Linked DNA regions of Homo sapiens: region 2 is linked to region 1. The links come from fine-mapping of genetic effects on gene expression. A gene starts in region 1. The other region holds a variant in brackets. All regions are shown on one strand. Distances are from middle to middle. Region 1 holds the start of PCDHAC2 (protocadherin alpha subfamily C, 2). Region 2 has its middle 23 kb from the start of PCDHB1.

What was found. PIP is the estimated chance that this variant, and not a neighbour inherited with it, causes the effect.
Region 2: its variant is the best candidate, but not a certain one, in a credible set for the expression of PCDHAC2 in lung (TOPMed, PIP 0.65).

The regions. Positions count from the first base shown.
Region 1 is chr5:140,964,835-140,967,747 of GRCh38, forward strand. It overlaps PCDHAC2 (protocadherin alpha subfamily C, 2), which reads left to right and starts at 1,642. Exons shown (of 4, transcript NM_018899.6): 1 at 1,642-2,913. The coding sequence starts at 1,933. All of the region lies in intron 1 of PCDHA1 (protocadherin alpha 1), which reads left to right. The region is part of intron 1 of PCDHA2 (protocadherin alpha 2); the gene reads left to right. All of the region lies in intron 1 of PCDHA3 (protocadherin alpha 3), which reads left to right. It also overlaps PCDHA4, PCDHA5, PCDHA6, PCDHA7, PCDHA8 and PCDHA9, and 6 more genes.
Region 2 is chr5:141,027,133-141,030,045 of GRCh38, forward strand. No RefSeq gene overlaps it. Among named protein-coding and RNA genes, the nearest start is that of PCDHB1, 23 kb to the right of the region's middle. The variant G/A (reference allele first, on the strand shown) is at 1,456.

The sequences.
Region 1 (2,913 bases):
CTACTCTGTACCCTTGAGGAAACAAAGAGGACAAATAAGAAGCAGCAGTGATAGGAGGCTGGGCGCTTCTCTGGAATAACACTGGCTAGGTAGTGGAGCATTGATAGTGAGTGTGCTTGGTTGGTGGAACGAAGGGATGTGCTAGTTCAGGCCTTTGAATTCTGGGTGTCAGGATCACAACCTTGGCTCCTTTAACTGTCCGCTCTAGGAGGGAAGCATGCCAAATGTCAGGTCTCACTCTGACTTTGTTCCAGTCCATAGCTAGAAAATGACCCATAGAGGAAGATCTACAGATGACAGAATACTGGGAGATGAAGAGAAAGGACGTTTTAGTGAGTGCTTTTTTTGCACATGAGGCAATAGATTTCAAATTCCTGTGGAAGAAATGTGAGAACCTGGGAAGAGTGAATATTCAGAACTGAGCAGCAGAGGCAATGACACAGCATGGAAAGATTTCCTCTGATCCTTCTACCTTCTCTTTTACTGAAGTGAATTTGTTGTCTCTGTGTTGCCTCTATAGCAGTACAAGAGGAAACTTGGGGACACAGAAGAACAGAAGTCTAAGGAGTCTTATATTTAAGGAAGATAAGCTGCAGTCATTGAAATTGCTGGTTATTGTAAGATAAATCCCAGACTCCCACATTTTGCTTAATGACAGCAGATTTTTTTTTTTTTTTAACTGCAAAGCATTAATGGAATCCAAATTCCAGCCTGGCTTAGGAGATCAACAGTAACGCTCTTGATTTAATGGTTTTGCAGACTCTTGAAGACATTGTCATCCATTAAAGAAAAAATTTTAAATTACTCTTGAAAGAAAATGTCTTGGGTGATAAATGTAAAAGATTTGAAGCAAGATTAGAAAAAGCTTGAGAGAAGAATCTCTTTAAAAATTTTACCAGATTTTCCCCATTGTCGCCAAAATGGGTCAAATAATAGATTTGCCTACAGCTTCATGGAGACTATTTTTTTAAACAGAGCATTTTAAACATTTAAATATTGGTTATTTGCCAAGGCACACACTGAAAATAAGGGCCACTTGGCCGAGAGCAGAATTGAGTCTTGGATCCCAGGATGCTGGTTTTAGGCTTGCTCCCGGAAAGAGGGCAGCATTTGCCATCCCCCTCCTTTTGCCCTAGGAGTTGAGCACTTTCTGCAGTACTTAAGAGTGTCCAGGGAAGATGTGGGAGTCAGGTGAATAGTTCCCATCGCCAGTAACCCCAGAGCGCCTCCCCCTGCGTTGTTTCCTTTTAATGTTAGATCCGCCGCCTGGGTGCCCATACTTAGCTAAGGCCCCTCAGTTTATTTTCCTGAATTGCGCTTGGAGATCTTTTCCTGGGGAGCTGATAGCCAGACTTCTAGGGGCTTGACTGCTTTTCCCAGACTAATCTCCTTAAAGACCCGTTAAGCAGGGGAGAGACGGTGGAGACTGGATGAACTGGACAGTGGGGGTAGGGAGAAAGGGAGTGGCCGTGTTCCTGCGGTCCGCTGGGATCCGGCAGGTCCAGGGTGAAGGAGATGGGGCTGGAGAGGCTGAGCAGTCCGGGTTCGCTGTCCGCCACTTCGGCGCGGAATCAGAGCAGGACTTGCTGAGCCCTCCTACCGCTCCCTTTCCCCCTCCCCCTCTGTCTTCCCTTCTGTTTCCTTTTCCCTCCCCCTGGAGCTGTAGCGGCAGCAGCAGCAGGAAGCCGAGCCGGGTTGAGCGACTCGGAGGCGAGCGGAGGAGCTGGAATATGGGGAGTCAGCGAGGACGGTGGGGCCAGGAGCCCTTGGGAGGGCCTACGGAGGGAGCGGCCCCAGGCGCTTTCTAGAGCGTGAGCGGTGGGGGAGCAGGCGCAGGGTGGCACGAGCGGAGGCGGGGCCCGGGCGTGGGGCACGGCTGGGGAAGCTGCCGCCTCCGGCCCTGCCCGGCTGCCTCCGCCGCGGCCAGTGGCTATGGAGCAGGCGGGCACCAGACCTGCGGCGACAGAGCATCCACGGCTCCGGCGGCCCATGCCCTGGCTGCTGCTACTGCCTCTCCTGCTGCTGTTGCTGCTGCTGCTACCTGGCCCTGCGGCCTCCCAGCTGCGATACTCTGTGCCAGAGGAGCAGGCACCCGGCGCGCTCGTGGGCAACGTGGCTCGCGCGCTGGGGCTTGAGCTGCGGCGCTTGGGGCCGGGTTGCTTGCGCATCAACCATCTGGGTGCGCCCAGTCCGCGCTACCTGGAGCTGGACCTGACGAGTGGAGCGCTCTTCGTCAACGAGCGCATTGATCGGGAGGCGCTGTGTGAGCAGCGGCCTCGCTGCCTGCTCAGCTTGGAAGTGCTGGCGCACAACCCCGTGGCGGTGAGCGCCGTTGAGGTGGAAATATTGGACATCAACGACAACTCACCGCGTTTCCCGCGGCCCAACTACCAGCTTCAGGTAAGCGAATCGGTGGCGCCTGGAGCGCGCTTTCACATAGAGAGTGCGCAGGACCCCGACGTGGGCGCCAACTCAGTACAGACCTACGAGCTCAGCCCCAGCGAGCACTTCGAGCTGGACCTTAAGCCCCTGCAGGAGAACAGTAAAGTGCTTGAGCTGGTGCTGCGTAAGGGCCTAGACCGGGAGCAGGCAGCCTTGCACCACCTGGTTCTCACAGCCGTGGATGGGGGCATCCCAGCCCGCTCGGGTACGGCACAGATCTCTGTGCGTGTCCTGGACACTAACGACAACTCTCCTGCCTTTGACCAGTCCACTTATCGCGTCCAGCTACGGGAGGACTCACCCCCAGGCACATTGGTGGTGAAGCTGAATGCCTCAGACCCGGATGAGGGCTCCAATGGTGAGCTCAGGTACTCCTTGAGCAGCTACACGTCGGACCGGGAGAGGCAGCTCTTCAGCATAGATGCCAGTACCGGGGAAGTGCGAGTAATTGGGGGGCTGGATTATGAGGAA
Region 2 (2,913 bases), 62 kb after region 1:
AGTTACTGATTAGGCCATTGTGTTTCTGATCTTGGTGATAAAAAGTAGCGAATTTTTAAACTTAAAAAAAAAATTCATTTGGGAGGTTCTAACTGAACTTTCCATATTTCAAGAGTACCCATCCTAGCCACAGGAAAACATGAATATTCTTCAGCTCAGAGCTAAATTTTAGTCATGCTTATCGCCCTTTGGTTTTCTCAGGCCACTGCCCCATGTGAGAGCTAGCAGCATCAGCAGCACAACTATCATCCCAATATTCTGATCATCTGAGAAGCAAGGGCTTCAGGAATGGATTTGTTTTCAAAAAGCGTACAAAGCCAGAAACTTGATTCCTCCATTTATGGATAATATCCAGGACAGATGGAAAGAAACACACCAGACAGCAAATGCCCTTGTCTCTGGTCTCCATATCTGCATTGGCACAGGTCAAACACAGTCTCTATGTGGCCCTGGGCTTAAAGGAAAACATCAGTTTTAGCTAAGCGAGAGCCCCAGAATTCAGTATATTTGTGACACGATCCAAATCCTTCACCCCCAACTTATAGCCTTACCATCACTATGTGACCATCAACATTAAGGTCGTGGTTTATGCCAGTTTCCAAAAGTTCAGAACTCCCCGACCATCTCCTTTCACTCAGAGAGTAAATCCCATGTTGTTCTGTAGATTTTTTTTACGCTATTTCTATCTTTCCTTAACTCCTGAAGCCTTTGTATTATGCCCTGTGGTCAGTCATTAGCAAAATTCCCTATGTTTGCAGCCTCTTTTCTGAAAATTTGCTGTCTTTGTTTAAACCGAACACTGGTTCTCCCTAAGGAGATTATTTCCATTATTCTTCTCAAAATGTAGCTGTGATTTTTCCTTAGCCTTTAATCCCACTGGGCCTAGAAGTAAGAAATTATCTTCCCTGCTCCTTCCAGATCATCCTACCACTTGCCACTTCTGTATCACCCTACCTTGCCCCCCACCTTGCCACTTCCAGATCTCCCTATCTCCCTTCTGCCTAACAACATTCAGCTTAGAATCTCATGCGGTCAAATTTTAACACCCACTACCTCTCCTTGTAGCAGTCATCTCCTGATCCCATGTCACTCACTGTCATTTCTTGATGATTTTACCTGCTGGCTCAATATCTTCTCTAGTACTATTCTAAACATAATACTTGGTGATTTCAATATCCACATAGATGTTTCTTCTAACAGCCTACCTTCTCCATTCCTTGACCTTCTCTCCTTGAATTACCCAGTGCTCTACTGACCTCAGCTACCTACTCCCATCTAAGGTCAAATATCTTTATGTTATCAGTGACTGCAACACTTTCCTAATTTCTAAGTATCAATTTCAAGCATCAAACTTTCTAATTGCCCCCTACAATTTTCCCAGCTTACTCCCTCTAAGACCCGAAAATAATGCCAACCATTCCAATACATAAAATCTATTAGTCCTACCATCTTTTC[G/A]TCATCCCTACCACCTTCATGTCCTAATTCTTTTTATCCAGTGAAAAGTCTGGGGTCAATCATTATAATCACTGCATTTTATATACCTTAAAATCCATGATCCTCCCTCACTTTAATATACTTGCTTATAAAAATCCGAAGCTTCATAAATCAAAAACTAGATTTATAAATTCAAAGACTTGTAAACCTAAAACTTTGCCCACATCAGGCTTGTATTCACATATGTTAATGTAGCAGGAGAAAAACATCACAATATTGCTAGCTGTTCTTATTTTATATTTGTGATTACAAATCTCAAGTGGCCCTTAACGTTGTCTGGCAATTATATAGTATTTTCCTAGCCCATTTACTCTCTCGTCTGCATCCATCCTACCTTGACCAATTCCTACATTCTGATGTCTTTCCAACTTTCAGCACTCCTCCCACTCCTCCATCAGTAGAGCATCTAACTTCAAATAAATTTGATAAATGAAGTGATCAGAGGAGCTGCCCATAAGTCTTATCTCATTGACCTACTGACCTGCCTTTGTTCTCTTGTACTGTATGTTATGTTCTGTGACTACTAGATGAACTCCCTGTGTCATGTACTCAAGGACATTGCTTTCTACCACCACTGTATTATCAATTTTCTCTTTCCTACTGGATCTTTCCCATCACCATACAAGCATGTTGTTATTTCTCACATCTTAAAGTAACTATTTATTGACCTCGTTTTTCCTTCCAGCTACTGCACATTTCTCTCTTCTTTATACAAAAAATTCCTTGAAAGTGTTCCCTATACTGACTATCTCCAATTTCTCCTCTAATTTCTGTTTTATAGTTTAAAAATTATTACATTATATTATATTATATTATGTTATATTATATTATATTATATTATATTATATTATATTATATTATATTTTTGAGACAGAGTCTTGCTCTGTTGCCCAGGCTGGAGTGCAGTGGTGTGATCTTGGCTTACTGCAACTTCTACCTCTCGGGTTCAAGTGATTCTTATGCCTCAGCCTCCCAGGTAGCTGGGATTACGGGTGCACGCCACCATGTCCGGCTTATTTTCGTATTTTTAGTAGAGATGAGGTTTCACCATGTTGGCCAAGCTGGTCTTGAACTCCTGGCCTCAAGTGATCCACCTGCCTGAGCCTCCTAAATTGCTGGGATTACAGGGGTGAGCCACTGCAACCGGCCCAAGTTTTAAGATAATTATATTTAAACAATTAGTACTCATAGCTACTTGGCTGTAGGTTCAAATGACTTCATTTGAAACCACTATTCTTCATTTTAGAAATTAGTACTTGGCCTGAAAAGATCATTGCAATGCTCAATTTTATTTATTTTAAAAAGTTCAAACCTATAGAAAAGTCAACAGAATAGTAAAATAAACCTCTATACTCCTTTCATCAAGATTCACCATTTAACATTGGCCACATTTACTTCTCTCTTTCTCTCTCCCTTAAC